Regions from separate parts of the Homo sapiens genome. Here region 1 is linked to region 2. The links come from fine-mapping of genetic effects on gene expression. A gene starts in region 2. The other region holds a variant in brackets. All regions are shown on one strand. Distances are from middle to middle. Region 1 overlaps GALNS (galactosamine (N-acetyl)-6-sulfatase). Region 2 holds the start of APRT (adenine phosphoribosyltransferase).

Region 1 (5,362 bases), 31 kb before region 2:
TCCGCCTCCCGGGTTGAAGCGATTCTCCTGCCTCAGCCTCCCAAGTAGCTGGTACAGGTGCCCGCCACCATGCCCAGCTAATTCTTGTGTTTTTAGTAGAGACTGGGTTTCATCATATTGGCCAGGCTGGTCTCGAACTCCTAACCTTGTGATCCGCCTACCTCGGCCTCCCAAAGTACTAGGATTACAGGCGTGAGCCACCGCACCCAGCCCCATGATTGCCTTTTAAGATAGGGTAGCTGCACTTTCACTAAGACAGAGGTTGGCCAACTCCAGCCCATGGGTCAAATGTGAACCACCTGCTGGGTTTTGTTGTTGTTGTGGTTTTGGGACGGAGTCTCCCTCTGTTGCCCAGGCTGGAGTGCAGTGGTACAATCTTGGCTCACTGCAACCTCCGCCTCCCAGGTTCAAGCGATTCTCCTGCCGGCTACTGTACTCCGAGTAGCCGGGACTACAGGTGCCCACCACCATGCCTGGCTAATTTTTTGTATTTTTAGTAGAGGCGGGGTTTCACCATGTTAGCCAGGATGGTCTCGATCTCCTGACCTGGTGATCCGCCCGCCTCGGCCTCCCACGGTGCTGGGATTACAGGCGTGAGCCACCGAGCCCGGCCCACCACCTGCCGTTTTTTAAACCCATAAGCCAGGCATGGGTTTTATAATTTTAAATTGTTCAAAAAACCAAAAGAGTAATATTTTGTGACATGAAAAATTATATGAAATTCAGATGTTGATGAATAAAGTTTTATTGGCACAGAGCGTGCACATCTGCTCGCATGCTGGCTTGTGGCAGGGCTGAGGGGCTGTGACAGCCCCATATGGCCCACAAAGCTGAAAGGATTTGCTGTGAGGCCCTTTACATAATGCATTTGCTGATGCCAGCTCTAAATATCCATATTTGCATTCAGATTGGTTTCAGAAATAAATATGCGTTGAATGCAGCTGGGCCTGTGAACGTGGTGGTTGAATTCAGCTGGGCCTGTGAACTTGGTCGTTGTGTTTAGAATGTGTTGTCTTTCCCAGGTGTTGTGTGTTTGTGCTGCCGAAGCTGCTGAAGGCGGCCTGTAGAGGGCAGGGGCCCAGGCAGGCACAGTCACTTCACTGGTGTCTTGGTTGGTGCTTGGAGCACCTCAGGAGGGAATATGTCCTTAAGGAAGGAAGACAGGCCAGACAGAGGGGCCTCGGAGTGTTGGCTTCTACCAGGCTCCTGCTGAGGTGGGCGCTCAGGGAGACGGCTGGAGGATCCGAGGAGAGCCAAAGCCCCAGGCGGTGCCCTCCCCTTCTCCTTCTAGAGCAAAGTCCTGGCCCACTGCCTGTTTAAAAGCACTTTTTTCCAACAATACACACTGTAAAATTTGAAGAAGTTTTCAGTGAACACCGCCGCTGCCACTCACCTCCGGAGTTTGCCGTGGGCATTTGCTGTGCTGGTGCCATCACACCTGGCATCACCCCGGCCTCCTGGCATCACCCCAGCCTCCGTGCTTCCTGCCCTGTGCTCACCCGTCCTCCTGCTTGGGGTTTTTATTGTAAAATACACAGAACGTAAAATTGACCATGACAGCCACCTTAACGTGCACCACTCGGGCACAGTCCATTCACAGCGTGGTGCCTCCATCCCTTCTACCTGCTTCCAAACAGTCCATCCCAAGAAGAAACCGGTACTCATCAGCAGGCCCTCCCCAGCACCCACCCCCAGCCCCGGCAGCCACTCAGCCGCCTCCTGCCTCTGCGGACCGGCCTGTTCCGGAGGCTTAATGAGCAAATCACAGCCTGTGTGGCCCTTGTGTCTGCTTCCTTCCCTCACATGAAGCTTTCCAGGGCCGTGCGCGGTGTGGGGTGCCCTTCCTTTCGATGGTTGGGTAGTGTGCCGCGGTACGTGCGTGAGTTTCCTGAGACATAACACGTTACCACAGGCCAGGTGGCCTTAGCGGAAATGGATTCTTGCCGGATTCTGGAGGCCAGAAGTGCAAAATCAAGGTGTCAGCCGGGCCCCTCCCCCTCAGGCTCTCCAGGAAGGTCCTTGCTGTCCCCTGGCTGGTGGCTGCGTCACTCCAGTCTCGGCCTCGGCCTTCACCCGGCATCTCTACTGCATGTCTGCGTCTCTAAGGGCCCAGTCATAGGATTGAGGGCCCACCCTGGCCCAGCGTGACCTCATCTTAGCTCACTACATCTGCAGAGACCCTACTTCCAAATGTGGCCACACCCACGTAGTACACGCCGGCCGCACTTTGTCGTCTGCCGATGGGCGCTCAGGGTGCTCCTGCCTTTTGGCCACTGAGTCGTGCTGCCCTGGACGCTCGTATGCAGGCCTGCGTGTGGACGTAAGTTTCAGTCTCTTGGGTGTACAGCTAGGAGTGGAGTTGCAGCGTGGAACTGCAGGGTCACACGATAACTGGGCTTCTGGGGGACAGTTACCAGTTGACTTTGAAATCTAGACGTGTACAGACATACGAGGGCCTGTGTATTTATGTTGAAAATAGATGCACGTGTTTAGAGGCCAGCTCCTGCGAGCATGCAGATGCTGGTGTCAGGCTGGGAGGAGGCAGACGGACACATTCCCCACCTGAAGACCAAGCAGAAGTGGAGGCGAAAGACAGCGTGGGCTGACCGTGGAGCGGCCCCATCGTGCACGCACGCAGGCGATGCTGAGGTTTGGGCTGGCGTGGAGCGGCCCCATCGTGCACGCACGCAGGCGATGCTGGGGTTTGGCCGAGCTCTGCCGCTGGCTGGGACACAGGGTGGTGCTGGCTTCCACGGTCCCCGACACGCTCTTGGCACCATGGGCAGCTCCCCAGGCCAGAAGCACCTGCAGAAGGCGCTCATTCCTCCTCCCCGTGCTCTTCCCTGCAGATGGGATGGGGTGACCTCGGGGTGTATGGAGAGCCCTCCAGAGAGACCCCGAATTTGGACCGGATGGCTGCAGAAGGG[C/A]TGCTTTTCCCAAACTTCTATTCTGCCAACCCTCTGTGCTCGCCATGTAAGTCAGCGGGGCCCTCGCCCCCAGGAAGGGGTGAGCCCAACAGGCCGAGGCCTCCCGGGTCCTTCCAGCCCTGACTCTGGGCGGCTGCATCAACCTTGTCTATTCCTACTACTGCAGGGAGGGTGGCAGGTGGGCTCAGGCCTTTCTCATCAAATCCCAGCCCGGCTCCGTGCCATGTGGGGTGCGGCACCTGCTGGGTTTTCAGGGTCGAAGTTGCGGTATTGTTGGTGGCTGCTGTTCTGTTTCCCAGAGTCGAGTGCTGTGGCCGCCTGGGGAGAGGTGCTGCAGTGTGGCTCCGTCTCAGGGTACCTGGGAAGCAGGAGTCCCACTCCCTCCCTCCCTGGGGAGAGTCTCTCCTGCTGGAGACAGAAACATGTGGTGTTGATCGTGAGGAAGAGGAGAAGGCAGGGCACGGGGCTGGTGCTCGAGGATGGGGGCGTGTGGACCTGCACGCCCAGTGGGTGTCCCAGGAGCCTGCGAAAGGAGGCGGGGTCTTGGGGACAACGCTGAGCTGCAGGGCCCAAGGGCCACGCGTCTTTCAGTGGAATGGGTGCCGTGCCCCACCCAGGTGGTGGAGACGCTAACGGGGATTGACAGGCGTGGCAGCCCCTTGTAAACCTGCGCGTGCCTCGTCTGTCACGCGTCTGTCTACTCGTTGGGGCTCTTGTTGACGCCCGGGGTCTGAGCCACACCCTTCTTATCCAGTTTCTGTTTCTGTCACCTCCACATAGCGAGGGCGGCACTGCTCACAGGACGGCTACCCATCCGCAATGGCTTCTACACCACCAACGCCCATGCCAGAAACGGTAGGCTGCCCACCGCCTCCAGGGACACCCTTGGGGTGCAGGGTTGGGCAGGTGGGCTACGGGTGGTGCCCGTGTCTCCGGGACTCGGGTGGCAAGCTGCAGGTGGGGTACCGCTGGTGCCTGGGTCTCTGGGACTTAGGTGGAAGTGCAGGCCCCCCTAGCTGGCTTCCTTCCCTGCCCTGGCCCAGTGGGGACTGAGCGGAGGGTGCCCAGTCTGGCCTAAGGAGCTGAGCCGGCACCCCCACCCCAGAAGCTCCCACTCCCCAGGCGGGTGAGCCGCACACCCACAGGGAGGCCGGGGCTGTGGCATCAGCGGCAGTTCTGGAATGTTCTGGAATCGCTGTGCTTGAGGGGTTTGGATGGGCTCCCCAGGGGCATCTCACAGGGGAAGTGGGATTTCCAGTGGCATTTGAGGAAAGGGAAGGACGGGGGAGGCAGGGGTGGGGCAGTGCAGCATCACGTGGCATATTCCAGAGACCCCTGGAGACCAGGCAGGTGGGAGGCTGGCCTGAGAGGCAGGGTGGGGCCTGAGGGTGGGCAGGAGTCCCAAGGAAGGCGCTGGGGGGCACGGAGTCTGCCCCGTCCCCACCCTCTGGTGATGGCACTGGCTCTGAGGGGTGCCTGGAAAAATCTTGGGAAGTGCCATGCCCTGTGGACGCGCAGCCCCCAGGCACAGCCTTTGACCCCGAGGGGCCAGTGTCCTGTTAGGATGTGTGGACGCAGCCCCCAGTGTCCTGTTAGGATGGGGTTGGTGGCAGCTTCTCGGGGTCTCCTCGGGGCTCACCCAGCGCTGCTCTTCCAGCCTACACACCGCAGGAGATTGTGGGCGGCATCCCAGACTCGGAGCAGCTCCTGCCGGAGCTTCTGAAGAAGGCCGGCTACGTCAGCAAGATTGTCGGCAAGTGGTAAGTCTCCTGGCCACGCCTGCCCAGGCGTCCTGCTCCATCCACTTCCTGGCCTTGGTTCCAAGGGACATGGCCACAAGTTTCCAAATGAGGAGGGTGTCTTGGGTGGGAAACGGCAGCTGATTCTGGGTGTGTTCAGGTGTCTCCAGCGTCCCTGTGCAGGCCAGCGTGACCTTGCCAGCAGGATCTCAGGTCACCAGGCTGGTCCCACGGCCGCGAGTATCCTGCGGCATCAGACTCCGCAGGCCTGTCACCGTCATCCCTCGAGTCACAGCCCCTAGCACCCGCCACCACTGCCCCCCGGCTGCCTCCTGCCACGTCGTCCTTGGAGGGGCCACGTCATTACACACAGGAGCTGTGGCGGAGGAGCTGCCTGTCCACCCTAGGGGCCTGTTGGATGGTGAAAGCTCTGGTCTAAACCACAAAGAAGCCACCAGGAAGGAGAGTAACAGCCTAGCAGTTGATGAAATCCTGAGCTGATGAGAGCTTGGGTGCTACACAGCCCCCACGCTGCGGTTTTAGGCGCACAGGATGTTTCATTTCTTTTACTCCCTGGGACGCCTGAGTGAGCCTAGAGGGTTGGGTAGGAGTCACCTGTCCCGAATTTCTCTCCACTTGTTGGAGCGTTCCCCGCCTGTCAGGTCCGCATGCCGCCTCCTCCAGGAAGCCCTTGCT
Region 2 (5,338 bases):
TCACGCCTATAATCCCAGCACTTTGGGAGGCCAAGGCAGGTGGATCACCTGAGGTCAGAAGTTTGAGACCAGCCTGGCCAACTTGGGGAACCCTTGTCTCTACCAAAAATACAAAAATGGTTGGGCGTGGTGGCTCACACCTGTAATCCCAGCACCTTGGGAGGCCAAGGCAGGTGGATCACGAGGTCAGGAGTTCAAGACCAGCCTGGTCAAGATGGTGAAACTCCGTCTCTACTAAAAATACAAAAATTAGCCAGGCGTGGTGGCGCGTGCCTGTAATCCCAGCAGCTACTCACTCAGGAGGCTGAGGCAGGAGAATCTCTTGAACCCGGAAGGCAGAGGTTGCAGTGAGCCAAGATCGCGCCACTGAACTCCAGCCTGGGTGACAGAGTGAGACTGTCTCAGAACAGCAACAACAAAATGCCCGCTGCTGCTGGGTCCAGAAGAGCTTGAATAACTGCATGTTCTTTTTCTCAATTTTCATTTCCCAGAACTGGGCACCTCCGGGCTGTGAAAAGTTAGGGAAGTGTCTGACACCTCCAGAATCCATTCCCAAGAAGTGCCTCTGGTCCCACTAGCACCTGCGCAGACTCAGGCCAGGCCTAGAATCTCCGGTTGGCCCTGCAAGTGCCTGGAGGAAGGATGGCTCTGGCCTCGGTCCTCCCCCAACCCTGCCCAAGCCAGACAGACAGCACCTGCAGACGCAGGGGGACTGCACAATTCCACCTGCCCAGGACCTGACCCTGGCGTGTGCTTGGCCCTCCTCCTCGCCCACGGCGCCTCAGATTTCAGGACCCTCCTCCTCGCCCACGGCGCCTCAGACCTCAGGACCCTGCCGTCTCACGCCTTTGTGAACCCCAAATATCTGAGACCAGTCTCAGTTTATTTTGCCAAGGTTAAGGATGCACCTGTGACAGCCTCAGGAGGTCCTGACAACAGGTGCCTGAGGTGGCTGGGGATACAGTTTGCCTTTATACATCTTAGGGAGACACAAGATCAGTATGTGTATGGCGTACATTGGTTCAGTCAGCCTTCCACTGAATACACGATTGAGTCTGGCCCAGTGAATCCGCATTTTTATGTAAACAGTAAGGGAACGGGGCAATCATATAAGCGTTTGTCTCAGGGGAGCCCCAGAGGGATGACTTCCAGTTCCGTCTGTCCTTTGTCCACAAGGAATTTCCCTGGACGCTAATTATGAGGGAGGCGTGTAGCTTCTTATCATTGTAACTATGTTATTTAGAAATAAAACGGGAGGCAGGTTTGCCTAATTCCCAGCTTGATTTTTCTCTTGGCTGAGTGATTTTGGGGTCCGGAGATTTATTTTCCTTTCACACCTTCTCAGCAGCTGCCAAGAATCAGGTGCCCAGCTCCCGCTGCCTCCCGGCCGGCCTCCTCCAGAGGCCAGCGCCACATTGGTTGTTGAAGGGCAGGACTCGGGGCTCCTTGCTGTTCCCACGCCAGCCCAACAGCCCGGGTTGAAGGAAGCCACAGGGCCAATTCTGTGTTGAACCCTCCCCAGGCCCCTCCTCCAGTACCCCCCCACCCCACGCCTTCCCAGGCCCCCCTCGGGCCATCTGGGAGACAGAATCAGGAACAAGGAAGGGGAAGGCGGAGGCCTCCTGGGCTGGACGTGGACGGCTGAAGTGTAGCTCACACACTTGGACCGGTGGGGCCGGCTCATGTGGCAGCTTCCCCGGGGACGTGAGGATGTCAGGGTCCTCCATTTCCACCTTCCCTAGGGGTCTGGAGCCCAGGCCCCAGGCCTTGCCAGCCCTGACCACCGCACACTGCGAGGCAGCCGCCCCTACCACGCCCCTTGGCATCAGACGATGGGTCCCCCACCCGCCCTGGAACCGGGGCCCCAGCAGCCGCATGCAGCCTCCGGCCTCCCCCTCCGAAGGCTCCTGGGGGCTGCCTTCCACTGAGTGGGTTTTCCCTTCTGCAGTAACTGCCAGGCCAAAGCTGAATTGTAAAAGTTGCGAAATGATGGGCCGGGCGCGGTGGCTCACGCCTGTAATCCCGGCACTTTGGGAGGCCGAAGCGGGCAGATCACGGGGTCAGGAGATCGAGACCATCCTGGCTAACACAGTGAAACTGCGTCTCTACTAAAAATACAAAAAATTAGCAGGGCGTGGTGGCGGGCTCCTGTAGTCCCAGCTACTCGGGAGGCTGAGGCGGGAGAATGGCCGGAACCCAGGAGGTGGAGCTTGCAGTGAGCCCAGATGGCGCCACTGTGCTCCATCCTGGGCGACAGAGCGAGAGTCCTTCTCAAAAAAAAGTTGCGAAATGAAGAAAAGTCTTGGAATAGAGCACAAGGCATTTTAGCTCTGGGGATTTTCTTGAAAGGAAATTGTGTTTGGGGGGAGTTATGCCTCACACAACCCCCTGGGTACCAGTCCTCGGGCGGCCAGGGGGTTCACAGCTCCCCACCCCAAGGCTAAGGGGTCACCTGGCCTCTGCAGGCGGACAGAAGGGCTTCTGCCCTCGCGGATGCGCGCCCTGGCCTGGCCACACCTTCCGGCCTCCCTCCCCCGGGTCCGGGCGGGGAAGAGCCGCCTCAACGGCAGGGCCCATCCGCGAGAGGCCAGCGCCCCCGGCCGGTCCAGCCCAGGCCCGCCGCCTCCGCCCTGGGCTGCTCCCTCCGGGCCCTGCACCGCCCTCCTGCTACTTGGACCGCTTCCTCACGCCCTTCTCCACCCCGCGCGCCAGCCTCCCGCGCGCAGCGTGGGGATCTCGGCCAATAAAGGAGAAAGGGCGCGGCCCGTACGCGCGCCAGGTGCGTGGGCGAGACCAGCTCACGCCCCTCCTCCAGCCGCCAAGGCCCCGGCCCACAGCTGCCTGGCTGCAGTCAGAAGCGTAGCCCGAGACAAGGAAGGGCGCCTTGACTCGCACTTTTGTCCGGTTCGAACGTTCTGCTCAGTGGTGCGTGGAATGCGAGCGCGTCTTAAAATCGATGGCGCCTAGGAGTCCATGAAATACGGTACAGGCTTCCGGCGACGGATGCCCCGCCCCTCACCCACGCTCCGCCCTCCGGGGATGCCCCACCCCTCGTGGCGGTCCCGCCCGTCCCCGCGCAGGCGCGCTCGGGCTGCCGCTGGCTCTTCGCACGCGGCCATGGCCGACTCCGAGCTGCAGCTGGTTGAGCAGCGGATCCGCAGCTTCCCCGACTTCCCCACCCCAGGCGTGGTATTCAGGTGCACGCACAGGCCGCCCTCGTGGCGCCCCGACCTGCGGGCCTACGGATGGGAGCGCGTGGCCCGCGACCTCCGGGCGGGCGGGGCGGGAACCCTCGTCTTTCGCCCCCGGGGCCCTGCCCTCCTTCGGCCCCGGCGTCACCAGGCCTGTCCTTGGGTCCAGGGACATCTCGCCCGTCCTGAAGGACCCCGCCTCCTTCCGCGCCGCCATCGGCCTCCTGGCGCGACACCTGAAGGCGACCCACGGGGGCCGCATCGACTACATCGCAGGCGAGTGCCCAGTGGCCGCATCTAGGGCGCTTCCGCCTCTGCGCGCGCCGAGGGCAGCACGTGGGCTCTGCGCGTCTGCTTGGGGGAGGGCCTTTGGGGTGCTTCAGGGGGCGCCGGGACGGGCGCCGTGCTTGGGTCGCCCGGGAAGGGTTGTGAGATTGAGCCCCCGAGGCCGCCGCGCTGTGCAGGCGTCCTTCCCGCAGGTTCCGGGTCCCCAGCCCAGGACAGGCGTGACCGAGTTGCCGGGTCAGTTGGTCTCCCTGGAGTGCCCAAGCTGAATCCACAGGGCCCAGCTGCCTTGCTTCTTGTTCCTTCTGCGAGCTGGTATTGAGCGCCTGCCACGAGCCAGGCCTTCCCTGGTGAAGATCACGGAATGCCCACCCAGGGAAGGGAGGCCTGGAGGCCTCCGGGAGAGCCCAAGAGGTGGCCCAGGGAGAACAGAGTGTTCCTGGCCGTCTTGCCTCTCCTAGGGTGTGACAGCCCACTCCCTGGACACTGCCCTGAGGAAAGCGCCAGCTCTTGCTGGAGCCACAACACTGCCAGAGCTCCCTTCTCACCTCCTGCAGGAAGCCCTCCCTGACCTCCTGCCAGGCCGGGGCAGGGTTTCCCTGAGCGTCCCCCAACCATCACAGCTCAGGCCACCTCGAGAGACTCCCTTTTTAGACAGAAGCCCTGGTGCAGAGCTGCCTTTGAGAGTAAGCTGAGGCCTGTCAGGTTTCTACCAGCCCAGTTACAGATGGGCTGCTCAGCTCAGAGAGAGGGGTGGTGACTCCCCTAGGAACACACAGCTAAGAAGTGGTCCCTTAAAAGACAGACCCAGGTCTGCACTCTGACCTGGAAGCAGCTCCGGGTAGGTGATGGGTAACATTCCTTAAATGGTGCATGTCACTGGCCTTTCAGCTGGGAGCCAACCAGGTACCCCTTGCCACCGGCCAACCCTGGCCCCTGGGGATTCCCATGCTGCCGAGTCACTCCTGTCACTTACCCTGACAGGCCTAGACTCCCGAGGCTTCCTCTTTGGCCCCTCCCTGGCCCAGGAGCTTGGACTGGGCTGCGTGCTCATCCGAAAGCGGGGGAAGCTGCCAGGCCCCACTCTGTGGGCCTCCTATTCCCTGGAGTACGGGAAGGTAAGAGGGCTGGGGTGGCCAGAGGAAGGGCAGGGCCAGGCCACCGTGGCCACTCTCCCCCAGTTCTAAAAGGCCTTCCCAGGCGTGTCAAGTGGAGCTGCTGTGGTTACAGTGGCCTTGGGAGCTCAGAGAGGTTGAGACATAGGCTGGGCTCACACAGCCAGGTAACAGCAAGGTGGGGTTGGAGTCAGGGTCTAGGGTGGCAGCTGCCAAGCTGTGCAACAAAGCTGTTTTCTGCGGGAGGCTGAGGACCACACACCACTTCCCACTCCAGGCTGAGCTGGAGATTCAGAAAGACGCCCTGGAGCCAGGACAGAGGGTGGTCGTCGTGGATGATCTGCTGGCCACTGGTGGTAAGGGTCTCCCCGCAGCCAACTGCTGTGGCTCCAAGGGCCTGGTGGGAGTGGGACAGGACCTCGCTGTGTGACATGGGATGCAGCTTACTGTTGTCCAGAGGGTGCCTGGTGGCCAGGCCGACACCTTCCTCTCCCCATGCCTTCCCCTCCCCAACCCAGGGGCTGGCCTGGAGCACCTGCTCTCTGCAGCCCAGGCCAACTGGGGACCTCACCCTCCCATCCCCAGGAACCATGAACGCTGCCTGTGAGCTGCTGGGCCGCCTGCAGGCTGAGGTCCTGGAGTGCGTGAGCCTGGTGGAGCTGACCTCGCTTAAGGGCAGGGAGAAGCTGGCACCTGTACCCTTCTTCTCTCTCCTGCAGTATGAGTGACCACAGGGCCTCCCAGCCC

The links.
Region 1: its variant is fine-mapped to the expression of APRT in transverse colon (GTEx, PIP above 0.99).

The regions. Positions count from the first base shown.
Region 1 is chr16:88,840,317-88,845,678 of GRCh38, reverse strand. GALNS (galactosamine (N-acetyl)-6-sulfatase) reads left to right here. Exons shown (of 14, transcript NM_000512.5): 2 at 2,850-2,973; 3 at 3,708-3,782; 4 at 4,585-4,687. Among named protein-coding and RNA genes, the nearest start is that of GALNS, 14 kb to the left of the region's middle. The variant C/A (reference allele first, on the strand shown) is at 2,928.
Region 2 is chr16:88,809,679-88,815,016 of GRCh38, reverse strand. It overlaps APRT (adenine phosphoribosyltransferase), which reads left to right and starts at 3,089. Exons shown (of 5, transcript NM_000485.3): 1 at 3,089-3,197; 2 at 3,361-3,467; 3 at 4,461-4,594; 4 at 4,869-4,947; 5 at 5,177-5,338. The coding sequence starts at 3,118. The coding sequence ends at 5,319. GALNS (galactosamine (N-acetyl)-6-sulfatase) reads left to right here. Exons shown (of 14, transcript NM_000512.5): 14 at 492-1,283. The coding sequence ends at 578. RefSeq lists enhancers at 1,346-2,029, 2,030-2,714, 4,220-4,755 and silencers at 2,427-2,686, 2,937-3,336.